Regions from separate parts of the Homo sapiens genome. Here regions 2 and 3 are each linked to region 1. Evidence: fine-mapped expression QTL. A gene starts in region 1. Each other region holds a variant in brackets. All regions are shown on one strand. Distances are from middle to middle.

Region 1 (5,223 bases):
GTCATCCTTTCATCCATTTATCCATCCATTTACCAACTTAAAATATTCATTGATTACCTACTACATATGACACTTTACTTGACCAAAATTGGCAAAACACATAGCTTAAAGTTGTCTTTCTTCCTAGTTAGGTGGAATGATGCCTGGTATATCGTATCATTAGAAATGGCTGAATGAATGAGCTCACTGTTTATTAGGAGGAATGAGACACAGACCAAAAATAACTCAAGCATAAGAGAGAATGTAGTTAGTGTCCTAAAAGAGATCCAGAGTGCTGTGTGAGTTCAAAGGTGAGAAAGAGCCCTTCTGACTGAAGAAATCAGGAAAGACTTCATAGAAGCAGTGGTGATATATGAGCTGACTTCTAAAGGACAAGTAAGATTATAATAGCAGATATAGTAGGGGAAGGGAATTACCGAGGGGGTGGCATCAATAAAGTTTTGGGGGTAAGGAAGTATGAGTTCTGGGTATGAAAATATGTCTAACTTGGTCAGAGCATAAATTACGTATTCTGGAAGGTAGACTGTGTTTGAGAACAAATGCTAGAATACCTTAAAAGCTAATTTGTTAGGTTCTGCAGAGTCAGTGATAGGACCCAAGCAGACAAGTAATTAGGAAGACTAATTTGGCAAAGATATTATAAAATGTTGGGGCTGAACAATTATTACATATAATAAGAGAATTAACAAGGTGCCTGAGTGAAATGTAATAAACAGAAAACAACAAATTTTGTATGTCAACCAAACCTAGCAGTCAAAAGGATTAATAACAATAAGTCATGTAGGATACTATGAATTCATAACACAAAGAAATGCTAGGGGAAATATTTGCAATGCTTATCACATCCAAAAGTTCCTTTCCCTAATATACAAAGATCTGCTAGAAGTCAACAAGCTAAAGATCAACAGCTCAATAGAAATATGGCCAAACGGCTGGACGTGGTGGCTCATGCCTGTAATCCCAGCATTTTGGGAGACTGAGGCAGGATTGCTTGAGCCCAGGAATTCAAGACCAGCCTGGTCAACGTAGCGAGATTCTGTGTCTATATTTTTAAAAATTTATTAAAAAAAGAAATACGGGCAAATGAGCTACCTAGTCTCAGAAAAGAAAATATATATGATGTGCAACTATATTAAAAGATTTTCAATTTCACTAATAATTTTTTTTTTTGAGACAGAGTCTTGCTCTGTCGCCCAGGCTGGAGTGCAGTGGCACCATCTTGGCTCACTGCAAGCTCTGCCTCCCGAGTTCACCATTCTCCTGCCTCAGCCTCCCAAGTAGCTGGGATTACAGGCGCACACCACCACACCTGGCTAATGTTTTGTATTTTTAGTAGAGGCGGGGTTTCACCGTGTTAGCCAGGATGGCCTCGATCTCTTGACCTCGTGATCAGCCCACCTTGGCCTCTCAAAGTGCTGTGATTACAGGCGTGAGCCACCGCGCCTGGCCAAATTTCACTAATAATTTTAAAAAGTAAATTATATATACATGGGATATCATGTTCACTTAGATTGGCGATGAGCAGAAAGTTTGATAACTGTGTCATAAACACTTGGTAACTGTGTTAGTGAGTGTGTGGGGAGATAGGTATCCTTATATGCTGCTAATAGGAGTGTAGGCTGTAAAATTCTCATGGTAGCTAGTTTAGCAATATCTATAAAAATTACAAATATGCATAACTTTCAGTGAGTCAGAAATTTTACTTTTAAGAATTTATCTTACATGTATAATCACAACACGTGTGAAATATCGTACACATAATAGATATTGGTTGCAATCTTTTCATAGTTGTGAAAGATGAGGAAAAACAATCTTAAAAGTAGTTTGGTTAAATAAATCATGTCACTCATATACAGTGAAATATCATCCCCATTTTAAAAAGATGATGGTGGTGGTGCTATACATACCGATACAGAAAGCTTTCTAAAACCTTTCATTAAATGAAAAATGAATAAATCATTGCAGAACAGTGTATATATATCTAAAATATCTATGGAAGAAACCAGCAACAGCCACTGCTCCTGGAGAATTATGGTCCCACACCACTGATCATTCTTTCAGTAGGGTGACCATCATCCAAATTTGCTTGGGACTGAGGGGGTTCCTTTTGGTTTGAAAACCAGGACAGTCCTAGGAAAAGTGAGACAAGTTGGTCACATGTCCCCAAGATGATCTTCTTTCACTTATGAACTTGCTACTTTCCCAGTCAGAATATAAACTCTGAAGGGGGAGACTTCCTGTTTTCTTCATGACTATATCTCTTGCGCACTGTGGGGTGGAGGCTGTAGAAGAGGAGAGAAGTAGAGAAACAGATCACATTGTGTCTTGAAGTGTTTCAGCAAATATGGGCAACACCCTTCTTTTACTAGCTTGGAACCCTACCTCTGAGTGCATTTCCCTTTTTATTATTTATTTCCTGTCAGTTATAAGAGAGGCCTACCCCTTTGTGAGCAGTCTAGGACTTTGTACACTTGTTAAGTAGGGAGAAGGCAGGGGAGGTGGCTGGTTTAAGGGGAACTTGAGGGAAGTAGGGAAGACTCCTCTTGGGACCTTTGGAGTAGGTGACACATGAGCCCAGCCCCAGCTCACCTGCCAATCCAGCTGAGGAGCTCACCTGCCAATCCAGCTGAGGCTGGGCAGAGGTGGGTGAGAAGAGGGAAAATTGCAGGGACCTCCAGTTGGGCCAGGCCAGAAGCTGCTGTAGCTTTAACCAGACAGCTCAGACCTGTCTGGAGGCTGCCAGTGACAGGTTAGGTTTAGGGCAGAGAAGAAGCAAGACCATGGTGGGGAAGATGTGGCCTGTGTTGTGGACACTCTGTGCAGGTGAGTAGGCCCCTTTTCTCTCCAGTGCCCAGGGGTGGGTGAGACATGGGGACCTAGGGCTGAAGGAGAGGCTCTGTCAGAGCCTTCCCAGGAAGGGCCTCCAGCAACACAGCTGCGTTCCTGCTGGGCCAGAATTACACATTCCGGACCAGTGCCCAGAATCAGAATGGTTTTTATTTACATATTAGTAAATAACATTCTAGCCCACTGCTGAAATGAAGAATTCAAAGTACTCTCAAGACCATATTTTCTTATCCCAAATTAGATTATAGGATCAGACACAGGATTTGACAATGTGGACAAAGTATTTGAAATCGGAGTTGTCCTAGAAAATCCAGGATGTGTGGATCTAGATATGTTCATTATCTAGTATATTAACGTTTGTGTTAAAACCAGAGAAAGAGACAGGAAACTGAGGCAGAAGAGACAATGCAACTTATCCCGTATCATTCACAGAGCAAGAGAAGATTCAAACCCTAAAAACAAACAACAAACTAGATGGGTCTTTTCCAAAGGCCAAAGCTCCTTGCCACTTCTGGGACCCTGGTCATTGAAAATTCTGGGACTCTGAGCATTTCCCTCTGGGAGGGAAACCTCCCAGAACAAAATCAGACATTCATGAGTATATGGTTGAATCCACATCAAGTGCTTAATAGCACAGTGTTCTGTGGGGACCTATGGAGTGTCTAAGGGTTAGAATGAAAGTCTTGGCATTAAGGTACCAACCATTTTGCTGGGCATTGGAAGGAAATAGAATGGAGAGAAGGAAGTTGAGAGACGCAGGGTTTGGCAAAGTTTAGGAATATCTTTGGTTTAGTGTATTTGGCCATCACCTTGCAATTCAGACACTGTTGAGGGCTTCCAGGATCCAGCTGCAACGGGGAGGAGAAGAGCTATACCAGGAAACTCAGGAGCACCAAGCCTGGGGAAGTGGAAACCAGGAGACTGGTTTAGAGCTCACTTTTTAGCATACACAGGAAAGCCCCGGGCCACGGGGCCTACAGCTCATTCTGGTTCTCCCAGGCCCTAGACATGCTTTTCTCTCAACACCTGGCCTTGGGGCTCTCGAGGGAAGGGCAGCCTGCTGCTGGGGAAGGGCTGGATCACACGGTTTGGAGGAAGATCTGGGTAAGATCATTCTCTCAGGCTGGCTCAAGTTCATCTGACTGAAGGCAGAAAGCCCCTCATCATCCACCAAGATGGACTGGTTGGCTCATTCCTTTATCCAAACAACTCTTTACTGAGCACATAGTTTGTGCAGGTGCCATAGAAGTGAGGAGTCTGGAATGATTAGTCATAAGTGGGCCTATCTCAGCCATCAGATTCAGGCAGGGAGGATGCTCCAGGGCCTGAGAGAGGGAGGCTGAAGGAAATACCCATCCTTCCCTGGCTGGGCCAGTGATTCTCCCATCTTCTCCTGGTAAGCCAGAAGCTCCTCCATGCCTGCACCACCCCAACCCCCAACACATATCCCCACACTTGTAGACTGGCTGCGACCCATGCATGAATAAAAATAAGAAATTTTGGCTTAGAAAAACGATCTTAAAACAAGATGCTCACCCAGCTTGGAGGGAAAAGTGGCCGTAACTCTGAATTGCCTGGAGCAGGACATTTTGCTTCTTCCTATGAGAAGGCAAGTGACCCCTGGGGAACTCACCCAGCAGAACGAGTCTTGGGCATGTTTTCAGACACACTGATGAAGTGTCTTCTACCTCCGCCCCATCCCTCCCACCACAGCCTGCCCAGCACAGAATCACGTGCCCACCAACTTTTCTTCCTCCATATCTTACATTAAGAGGAAGAAGGGGCCAGAGCAGTGGGGCAGGAGAAGCCAGGCTTGGTGGTCGACTTGAGGTATATAAACAGAGTTTACCAAATAGTGAAATAGCCATTGCCACTGCAGGTGAGCAAGGAAGACCTTCAAAGGTCGACCAAAAGCAACCAGGCGGCCCTCCCCACCATGCCTCATGAGAGGATACCACCTCTTCCTTTGCGCAGGTAAGGGAGACCCAGTTAGGAGCAGGGACATTAGGAAAGGCTTCCTGGAGGAGGTGGAGCTTGACTTGGGTTCCAGAGGACTTACTGGGCTTTTCTCTTCTTTCTCTTCCCATCTGACCTTTCCGAGGAATTGATTCTGCTAAGACCTGGGCAGGGAAGCACTGCACTGATGAATGGGCCTCAAGACTCAAGTGGTGTTGGAGGAAGCAGAAGCTATTCATAAGGTTCCATGCAGGGGGCACAAACGCAAGGCCGTGCTTTTAAAGTAGGGAGTTTAAAAGCAATCATAAAACCGACTAAAAGTTGGTCTGCTTTGTGTGTGTGTGTGTGTGTGTGAGACAGAGTCTGGCTTGCTCAGGCTGGAGTGCAGTGGTGTGATCTCAGCTCACTGCAACCTCCGCC
Region 2 (5,223 bases), 30 kb after region 1:
GACCAGTTTTGTACTGGGCAGCTTGGTATTGGACCTTTCAGTCAGGAAACTGAAAAAAAAAAAAAAAAAAAAAGAAAGAGCTATATAAAAATCCTACCATCCTTTCCACACCCAGAGCCAATGGGTGTGGAAATACCCTGGTGGAGTCCCAGGGCCCCTAGTGCCACCCCTGCTCCTGAGGATCAAGAAAGACAAGGCTTGCTGGGTGCCGTGGCTCATGCCTGTAATCCCAGCACTTTGGGAGGCTGAGGCAGGAGGATCACTTGAGGCTAGGAGTTCAAGACCAGTCTGGGCAACATTGTGAGACCCCTGTCTCCAAACAAAATTTTTAAAAAATTAGCTGGGCATGGCAGGACTCACCCTTTAGTCCCAGCTACTCAGAAGGCTGAGGTGGGAGGATTGCTTAAGCTCTGGAGGTCGAGGCTGCAGTGAGCCATGATCACACCACTGCACTCCAGCCTTGGTGACAGAGCGAGACCCTGCCTCAAATAAAATAAAATAAAATAAAGTAAAATAAAATAAAATAAAGTAAAATAAAATAAAATAAATAAAATATTTTTTAAAAAGAAAGACAAGGCCTGAAAGGTGTCCATCCGATTTAGCTTCTGGGAGGTCTTTCAGTTCAGTGTAGGTGGAAAAGGAGGCCAGAGGTGGAAAGCAAAGCCAGCAGGGCACACAGCTCTTCTGAGAAGATGAGGTGCCCCGGGGGTGGGGATGAGGACCCGGGGGAAGAATATCTGGTGTCCTGGATAAGCCCAGCCGGACGGATGCACACATTGGGGGTGCACTCAATCCAGGAAGAGCTTTATCACTCGTTTGGGGGCAAATCGACTTCTTAAAAAAGTTAGTAGACACTTTGGGAGGCTGAGGCAGGCGGATCACGAGGTCAGGAGATCGAGACCATCCTGGCTAACACGGTGAAACCCCGTCTCTACTAAAAATACAAAAAATTAGCCGGACGTGGTGGCGGACGCCTGTAGTCCCAGCTACTCCGGAGGCTGAGGTAGGAGAATGGCGTGAACCTGGGAGGCGGAGCTTGCAGTGAGCCGAGATCGCGCCACCGCACTCCAGCCTGCAGCCTGGGCAACAGAGCGAGACTCCGTCTCAAAAAAAAAAAAAAAAAAAAAAAAAAACAGTTAGTAGAATCCACTCGACCTAACTTAAAATAGGTCAATGTAATGTAGGTTTTCAACAAGCTTCCAGTTGTGTTTACGTATTTCTGGTTGGCAACTTTTTATCGAGTGTGTCTGGAATTTTTGTTGAAACCACCTGGCAGCTCCCCGGGGGCTCTGTGGCCTCCTCTCTCTGGCCTATGAATAGTCTAGTGACTCCAGCCATGGTCATGGTAGGTGTGCTGTGGACACTGGTAGTGTCTGATCTTCTTTCCTGCAAAGTGTGTATATGGAGACCCAAAGCTGAAGGTTACAGGTGGCAGATGCTATAATAGCTTTATACCCAGTGGTGATGTAACACAGAAGATGCATAAGAAGATCAAAGAAGGTTTCTCCAAGGAGTGGGTATTGGAGTCGACAGTGGTTAAGAGCATGCCATGGGCTTGACTCCTGGCTCGGACACTTGTTAGCTGTATGACCTTGGCAAGTGACTCAGCTTCTTTGTGCCTTAGGTTCTATGTCTATGAAATGGGTACAATGCTAGTGTTTACTTCATAGGGTTGTGAAGATTAAATAAAAGTAGATGTGAAGCATTGAGACTAGTGCCTGGTAGGCAGTAAGCACTCATTTAATGCTAAGTGTTATTAGCTGTTATTTGAGTTGGGTCCTCAAGGATGAGGAGGCTTGGCATGGAGAACAGGAAGGAATCATGACTGTCTGGTGTGGCTAAGGGGTAGGGTGCGTGTGTAGGTGTAGGAATGGTGGGAGATACTCTTGTTAAGAAACACAGTGATGAGAAATCATGAAGAGCCTGTGCGTTACGCTAGGGAGGTTCGTCTTTGCCCTGTAAGCCACGGGTACCTTCTGAGGAGCCTCACAAAGGGGCAGCCCAGCTGCAGTTCTCTCCTGCCTCCACAGGGAGACTCTTCTGGTTGTTAGAAGCCAAAACTTAGTTCTTTCATTATCCAAAAGGGAGAATCCTGAGGACAGGAAAGGAGGTGAAAAGAGAATTGCTTCTTTAATTTGTGAAAGCTTTAATTTGTGAAAGCTTTATCCTGTCTCTAGTTAAGATTTGCTGAGTCAGAATGGGGACCTGCAGGTGACAGAAAAGAATATGGTTAATGTCCATAACAACATGCCCTGGCATCTGGAGACATTGCGGGGTGAGGGCAGAGTTCTCAAAGCCTTCGTTTCCACTCTGCTTTGCAGAGCCTTGGAGAATCTGCCAATTCTGGCCAGGTGCAGTGTGGCTCATGCCTGTAATCCCAGCACTTTGAGAAGCTGAGGCGGGTGGATCGCTTGAGTACAGGAGTTCGAGACCCACCTGGGCAACATGGTGAAACCCTGTCTCT[A/G]CCAAAAATACAAAAATTAGCCTGGCATGGTGGTGTGTGCCTGTAGTCCCAGCTACTTGGGAGGCTGAGGTGGGAAGATCCTTGGGCCTGGAAGGCAGAGGTTGCAGTGAGCCAAGATGGTGCCACTGCAGCCTGGGCACTAGAGCCAGATCTTATCTTAAAAACACAAAACAAACAAACAAAAAATAAATAGAGAGAATCTGCTAATTCTTCTTCCTCTGTGGGTCAGCCCAAATTATTTCTGGCTTTTAAAACATTTCAGTCCACCATGGACGATTTGGAGAGGAGGGTACCTCTGCTCTCCTACATCTGAAGACAATTTCCAACATTAGAGATTCATTCCTTTGACTAAACCCTCAGTGGAAACAAGCTAGCAGTGAAAAGAACAGGGAATCCAGAATCAGGAAACAAGAAGTCCTGACTTCTCCACTTTGGAGCTGTGAGTCACTCACAGCCTCTCGGACCCTTAGTACTGCCCTTTGAAAAAAACTGGGATTCCCCAAAAGCTGTGAAGAGGATGAGAGGAGATCCCATGTGTAATAGCTCTGAACAGACTTTGTAAGCTGTGTCCCAGGAAGCTGAGTTTCATGCACTGAAGAAACAGGAATTTGGATATCAAGGAAGTGGGGGAGGGGGTAGTTCTGGGGCCTGGAGCACTTAAGGGGAGGCGGTTGTGAAGGGTGGGGACCAGTCCAAGGAGGATCGTGAGGGCCCTTTGTGAGAGAGAGGTGGCAGCAGGGGCTTGTCGACAAGCTACAGGATTGGGTAGGGGTTGGGGGGATGCGGAAACGTTAGGTCTTGTCAACGTGACATTAGCGTCTTGGTGAGACAGGAGGTTCTCTTGAGGGGAATCTCTCCACAGCTGGAGCAGAGGAAGGTGGGAAGCGTATGACCGTCCTGTGCATTCCCCTTTCTGACCACAAGGTGTCGCCACTGCAGCGGAAACATTAGTTTTCTCCGGATATCAGAAATTACTAGTCCCTTTCCGAAGGAAAAGGGGCTTGGGAGCCCCAACTCGGAATCAAAGAAGGTCCTGTGGCACAAGACCTGCACTGGTTCATCCCAGCAGCTTCCAGTGCACACGGTTTGCATCAGGGAACTGGGGGAGGATAGCGCTGACTCATTGGACTAGGAAACCCCATGTTCCCCACCCTAAACAAGGCCTAGAGCTCAAAGCTGGACTCTGACAACTAAAAAAGTCCTGACTGTCTGCAGTGTGCTGCCTACACTAAATCCAGAGTCCGAGCTTCACACTCTTAAGTGGTGGGGATCTGTTATGAGCTCTAGACCTCCTAAGTATGCCCAGGGCCATAGAGCATTTCCTAAAGTGTGTTCCTTCAAGATGCCTCTTAAAAATAACAAATCCGATTCATTTAGCAAATGAGAGCATGAATACCACACCCCGCTGTCAGAAGTTCCCAGTGCTCAACAGCATTGTAGGAGCTCTGAAAGTGCTGCCCTTAGAAAGATTACTTAATCCTAACTCAGTGATTCCTAAACTTGCTTTTTTAGGGACTCCTTCTCCATGCCGCATGTTAATATCACATGTAAACAATGTTCCAGAAAACATACTGAGGCGTGGAATTCTAGGATAGAAGGGGACACATTTTATGAAGAATGAGCATCCAGAGAGTAGTGTCCTGGGGGTCAAGGGAAGAATTTGAAGAAAGTACAAGTGAAAAGACTGAAAGAAAATAGCACCAAATCAAAGTGTTATTTATAGGTGATGGAATTATGAATGATTTTTATTTGTTCTCTCTTCTTTAAAGAGGCATTCCTTGGCCCTTTGGATGAGATTAAAACCCCTTGCCATAAGCTCAGATAGTACCTCCATCTTGAACTGTAACCATCATTGTTTCATGTCTGTCTTCTTTGGGAGACTGGAAACACCAAGAGGACAGGGACCCTCCTCATCTCGTTTATAGCTGTGATCAGCAGCTAAAGATTTTCTGTATTGAATTGAATTGAAATAATAGTTTTATATCATTTATAAATTATTATAAGGAGCATACATTGCTTTTATCATACAAAATTTTATTTTTATACATATTTTTTTCGAGATGGAATCTCGCTTTGTTACTCAGGCTGGAGTGCAGTGGTGCGATCTCAGCTCACTGTAACCTCCACCACCCAGGTTCAAGCGATTCTTTTGCCTCAGCCTCCCAAGTACCTGGGACTAGAGGCGCACACCACCATGCCCGGCTAATTTTTATATTTGTAGTAGAGACGGGGTTTCACTGTGTTAGTCAGGCTGGTCTCGAACTCCTGACCTCAAGTGATCTGCCCGCCTTGGCCTCCCAAGGTGCTGGGATTACAGGCGTGAGCCAATGTACCCGGCCACAAATTTTTAAAAGAAAATTATCAATGGCTCCAGGGAGTTCTAGACCTGAAACAGGATTTTTGTTCCTGTTTTATAATTTCTTAATTTTGTGACCTTGAGCAGTTCACTTAACTTCTTTAAGCCTCCAGTTAACTCCATGAATTGGAGATTGAAATATTGAGGATTGCTGGAAGGATGAAAGGACATCACATTTGAGGATGTGTACTGAGCAGCACATCCGGAGAAGGAAAATCTTGAGATGCAATCTTGCAGGAAAGTGACGGTGGGGCGGAGAGAGGACAACTCCCCTGGTTTTGCCCCTAGCACCAAGTGGCAAGAGGCAAAGCTGGTATGATTGACAGGGCCAGATCTGTGACCTGAAGCTTGGACTTGTTACTGAGGATTACGTCTAGTGGTTGCTGGGCAGCCCCTGAAATGT
Region 3 (5,223 bases), 25 kb before region 1:
TATTGTGAACATTTTCCAATGTTGGTAATTACATATGCATGTCAGTATTATTGTCAATGGCTCCTAGTGTCCGGTTCTGTGGTAGCTACAGATGTCATGAGATGGTGAAGTCGGCAAGACTCTGTGGCAGGAAAGGAGGCCCAGAGGCCTTCTTGAGGGACAAGAGAGTCCTGGCAAGAGGGCAAAGGATAAGCAGTCATGGCGGCATCTTGCCTGGAGACCTCCGAATGCAGGTGGATGGAGGGGCCTTTCTCTGGGCTGGGGCAGGGTAAGTGGCTAGGCAGCCTCATTGTGCTGGATGGACCTATGGGCGCCTTTGGTGAAAGTTGGGGGAGTTTCGTCTGTCTCAGGCACTAACCAGAGGGTTAGGACAAAGGGTCATGAAGAGCAGTCAGACTCACTTCTCAGCTATGAAGACATTGGGCCAGACCTCATCCACCTCATTCCAGGGCGCCTCTTGGCGATCCTGAACCAGGGCCCGCTGTAGGTCCAGGACACAGGGCGTATTATAGAGGCTGGTGTCATCCATCTTCTCCCTGACGCGGTTGTACAGGTCCTCCACCAGCAGCTGTTCAGCAGACTCCAGCATGCCTGGACACTCTGCGTCTGCTCTGACCCCCGGTGGCTTGAGTTCTAGAGGAGACAGGCAGCATTCTCATCAGAGAGTTAGGAACATCATGGCCTTCCTTGTTCCTGGGGAGAACATGCTCTTGGCCAGTTTGCTGCCAGGATTCTGGGCATGGACTGAATGCCAGCAGGATCTCCCAGGAAGGACTTTAATTGGGCCCAGGGTACCTGCTGCACTGGCCCAAACACTTGTAATCAGGGTCAGCAAGAAGACTGTATAGATGTGGGTAAAGGGGATCCAATTTCTTTTACTCCCTCCCATGCTTCTCTGAAGCTGGTCGATAATTTTTTAGACCAAGTTCCTTAAGTATTAGGTGTACTTTGATTCATACTTAATAACTCCCACAGTGCCCAGTACAAAGTGGATGCTCAGAAGTGTTTACCAGCCAGGCGTAGTGGCTCACGTCTGTAACCCCAGCACTTTGGGAGGCCAAGGTGGGCAGATGACCTGAGGTCAGCAGTTCAAGACCAATCTGACCAACATGGTGAAACACTGTCCCTACAAAAATACAAAATTAGCCAAGCGTGGTGGAGAGTGCCTGTAATCCCAGCTACTTGGGAGGCTGAGGCAGGAGAATCACTTGAACCTGGGAAATGGAGGTTGCAGTGAGCTGAGAGCATGCCATTGCATTCCAGCCTGGGCAAAAAGAACGAAACTCTGTCTCAAAAAAAAAAAAAAAAACCAAAAAAAAAAAAGTAGAAGTATTTACCAAATGAGTGAATGGCATTCATTCATAGTATAATTCACTCTGTTAGTTTGACTCTTTTACATATGGATTGCAAATAACCCTGGGAAAAGTAAAACTTTCAGCAGTAATTTATGCAATATTGCCTTCTAATATACACCTAATTTACTGATTTATTTCTTGTATTGTCTTCTTCCCCCTACTAGAATGTAAGGACCTATGATTCTCAGCCTCCCAGCCCACAGACAGGTGGCAAAGGTTGGCCATGAGCTCTCATTCTAATCTCAAAACGTGACTCAGGGCCTTTCTGACAACAGGTCAGAAAAGCTCAAACTCCAGATGAACTCAAACCCCAATTCACTCACATCTGGGGTGAATCTTTATCTTCTAATAATATATTTGCTCACAGTTTATCAAATTTGGGGAAATGTAAGATGCTTTCTTTCTTTAAGTTAGACAAAAATAACAAAGAACAAAATCGTTCCTCTCACATGGTAGCCAAAATACTGAATAGAGAGAGAGAGAGAAAAGAAGCTGGAAAGATGTTTCCTCTGTGTTCCCCATAGCCTCTTGATGGCACCATCTCTTCCCTGATGGGCAGTCTCTGGGTGGGGGCTGCAGAGAGTCCAGCCACATTTGGAAGGTAGACTTGGTCCAGCCCCTCGTGGAATCTGCTCCTCCCAGGGGTCTGTAAGCAGGGCTTGTTGCTCATGGACTGCAAATCCAGGGAGCCTTGGGTTCTGCCTAGGGCTCAGGATTTCATTTCCCTTCTCTCTTCCCTCCTCTAACCCCCCTGAGGGACCCCCACATCCCTGCATCAGGGCTCAGCTCTAAACGTTCTCTGATCTCCGTTTCAAACGCAGAAAGAAGAAAACTCCTGCAATCCCAGAGCTCTATTTTGTTTAAAAATAGATGAAGTGTTCCTATTTTCTCCACTACCCAGTTTTCTCCCCTGGCTCTCCTGGGGTCTTTCATAGCAAATTCAGTCCGCTCCCCTTCCCGTGTCTACTTAGATGTCTTTCCCTTACTACATATAAAAA[G/A]TGGGACTCCTGACACCTCATTAAAATACACGGTGTTGTCTTCCTCGGCTATTTATCTAGCAGGTTGTTGTTTCCATTTCTTTTCTTTTCAATTTAAAAACAAATGTCCCAGCCCTTCACCCCTGATGGCAACTCCTGCTTTCACTAGGTCTCTGGTTCACACTTCAGCCTCTGTAGAGCTTGCCTCTCTCCCTGCATCAATTTCTTTCTATTACCTGACATTTCTTCAGCAGAAAGTAAAGCCCACACATTTCTCCCCTACACTCTCGGATGTGTGGCATATGCAGACTTTCATTAAAACGGAAGGTTTTCAGCACACATTTTTACCCCTGTAATCACTAGTGAGCATATATTGTTTTTTCTCTCCCTATAGCCCTTCAGCCACTAAGGCTAATGAAACTTAGGTTTGATGCCCCCAGAGAAGGGAAGAATAGAAAAGAGCCAGGATAAAACAAGGCATTGCACATCTTTTGGCTTCAAACTAGACTGAATGTCCATAGCATTCTATAGACTTGAAAGTGAAGCTTTCAAAGAGAGAAAATGTTTTTTATTTTTTTTCTCCCCTCAATTCCTAAAGCTGGACTTTTACTTATCAAGAACCAAAACATGGAGAATGGTCCACAGAATGAAGCACAAAGCAGAGATGATGCAGAGTGGAAGGTTAGGGAAATTTCCAACCACAAAAGAGGAAGAAAAGACTTTCTAGAGCTATAGTGGTGCTGGGAGCAATTCAGAGAGAACTGGACCAGGGTGAAGACACTGCCTGGGTTAGTGGGCAAGATATCTTGGGACAAGATATCTTGGAGCAAGACAACAGAGACCCCAGGTATGGAAGAAAAAGAAAAAAAATCCCCCAAAGCAGATGGGTCTTTGAGAAGATGGGGCCTCCTAGAGTGCCCAGAACAGTGAGCAACAGCAAGTCAAATTTCTGGTTCTATGTGAAGTGTGCAAGAGGTCCAAATGTCCTCTAGAGACCCTGGTGGAGACCCAAATGGGTCAGGGGACCAGTACCAGAGTTAGAATGGACAAAGAGTAGCATGTGATTCTAATAATGAAAGACCAAGGAAAGGATTGTGGCCACCAGCGGTGGTTGAGAGATTAAGCCCAAAGGCCAGCTGGGCCCTGCTTCATCAGTGTGCACTTTATCCCACTCCACCCCATCTCACCAGAGTTGTGAGGCTACCCAGGGAGAAGGGAGAAGAAAGGGGAAGAAAGAAATTGCAAAAGATTATTTCCTTAAAATTGATTAGAAAAAAATTCATCTAATCCAGATAAGTATCTTTGAGTGAAAAATAACTATATGTTGTCTGCTTCAAAATTTTACTGTGTAAATATTAACATATTGAATATTGGGTGCTCCCCACCCAAGCCTTTCCCTCCTCCCCATGCATCCTTCAGTTTGAAGCATCTTTAAGCACTGGTGGAAGTGCAGGTCTAAGTCTAGACTCCCTTGGAAGAGAACCCTCTGGATGCTTCTGGCCATTTCTCGGGCTCTCAGGTCTGTGCCTCTGCCATAAGCCACCTCAGGACCCCTGAGGTAACCAAAAATTGAGCAGGAGGCCCTAGGGACAGATTGGTGCTGCCTCTCTGGTTGTCCCTGTTCACACTGATGCATAATTATTTCCACTTCCATCCTATCAAAGTTGAGGAGGTAGGGTTGGCAGAACTGCCTTCTGCAGATCTGCTCTTCCTAACGTGATGGGCAGCACCTGAGAGGCACATTGACGTCTTCCAATGGCCCCCCTCTAAGGGTCTCCAGATGACCACTGGACTTTGCTTCCACCCAGCTTTTGATTGCATTACCTTCATTGATGATCTGTTTGGCTGCAATGGCTGAGGAGAGGTGAATGGGTTCCATGAAAATGCTTTCTGTTTCTGCATCTGAGACCATCGAATACCTAAGGGAAGAGGATATTCACGTGAGATAAGCCTGTAGCATCTGAACTGAAGGCATTCTTTTAGATGAGAAACCTGGCTTTGATTTTAGCAACAAGTGGGGAACAACGAGTGATCAAGGCAAAGCCTTCCTAAGTTTAAGGACCCAAGAATACAGAACACTGGGTATCATGTGACTCAGATGCCCACCCATTTTCAGATCACAGTTGGCACTGATGGTGTGTGATGTTTAATGACATGGTGGTCTATGTTGTGGAGGCAAGAGCGTACATCTACGCTTGGGGGAACCCACCCTGATGTGGCTTCACTTTCTTGGATGTCCCGCTGCTCATTTTAAAAATTTTGTCTCCTTTTCCTCTGCTATCAATCTACAGGGTGTCCTTAATTTTGCCTCTGCCAGTCTTCTGCTGGACTGCTGGGCTGAATAGGTTGCCACCACTCTTTCTGTTCCCTTTGTTCTCCATTCCTTCTCCCTGTTTGTAAGGGAATGGGCTAATGATGAAGAACTGGCATAGCACCAAGTGCAATGCTAAAGATGAACTCAAATGCACGGGTACTGATTCTGAGCACATGAAATCGAGAGTCAGGTTGAGCCCAGGGATGCAAAGAAAGTAACTTGGGTAAATGTCATGGCAATTTCCCAAAAATAATTCGGTGCAGTTGTCAAAAAAGACCTTTAGGAACATGGAGAATCTACAGCAGACACAAGACCTGGGACTGCACTATGGCGGTGGGGATGGGACCACACCATAGTTCACTAGTAAACAACTTTCTAGTGAGTTGTCCTGTTCTCCAGGTGTTCAGATGAGCTTTGGGTCATTTTCTTTTTTCTGCTTAGTCTTTCCTATAGGTCCATAGAGGGAGGATTTAATGGATACCATTTGTGAGTGCCTTCTATGAATTTAATTCTGACAAACCCTCCACAAATTAGGTATTATTTTTATTCCTGCATTACCGATGAGAAAATTGTGGCT

Which allele goes with the higher level. Alleles are on the strand shown, and positions count from the first base shown. SD is a standard deviation of normalised expression in the study named. Not every link is listed here.
For the expression in cerebral cortex of the gene that starts at base 2,691 in region 1, A is the high allele of the variant in region 2 and G is the other (moderate effect, 0.57 SD a copy in GTEx).

The links. PIP is the estimated chance that this variant, and not a neighbour inherited with it, causes the effect.
Region 2: its variant is the best candidate, but not a certain one, in a credible set for the expression of GPA33 in cerebral cortex (GTEx, PIP 0.67).
Region 3: its variant is the best candidate, but not a certain one, in a credible set for the expression of GPA33 in lung (GTEx, PIP 0.52).

The regions. Positions count from the first base shown.
Region 1 is chr1:167,087,845-167,093,067 of GRCh38, reverse strand. It overlaps GPA33 (glycoprotein A33), which reads left to right and starts at 2,691. Exons shown (of 7, transcript NM_005814.3): 1 at 2,691-2,823. The coding sequence starts at 2,781. It overlaps LOC124904451 (a long non-coding RNA gene), which reads right to left and starts at 4,468. Exons shown (of 3, transcript XR_007066717.1): 1 at 4,384-4,468; 2 at 3,657-3,745; 3 at 1,687-2,282. RefSeq lists an enhancer at 2,516-2,665.
Region 2 is chr1:167,057,497-167,062,719 of GRCh38, reverse strand. The region is part of intron 4 of GPA33 (glycoprotein A33); the gene reads left to right. It overlaps GPA33-AS1 (GPA33 antisense RNA 1), which reads right to left. Exons shown (of 6, transcript XR_922249.3): 2 at 4,293-4,413; 3 at 1,974-2,092; 4 at 1-49. Among named protein-coding and RNA genes, the nearest start is that of GPA33-AS1, 7.4 kb to the right of the region's middle. The variant A/G (reference allele first, on the strand shown) is at 2,465.
Region 3 is chr1:167,112,738-167,117,960 of GRCh38, reverse strand. STYXL2 (serine/threonine/tyrosine interacting like 2) reads right to left here. Exons shown (of 6, transcript NM_001080426.3): 3 at 4,157-4,251; 4 at 402-633. Among named protein-coding and RNA genes, the nearest start is that of STYXL2, 21 kb to the right of the region's middle. The variant G/A (reference allele first, on the strand shown) is at 2,354.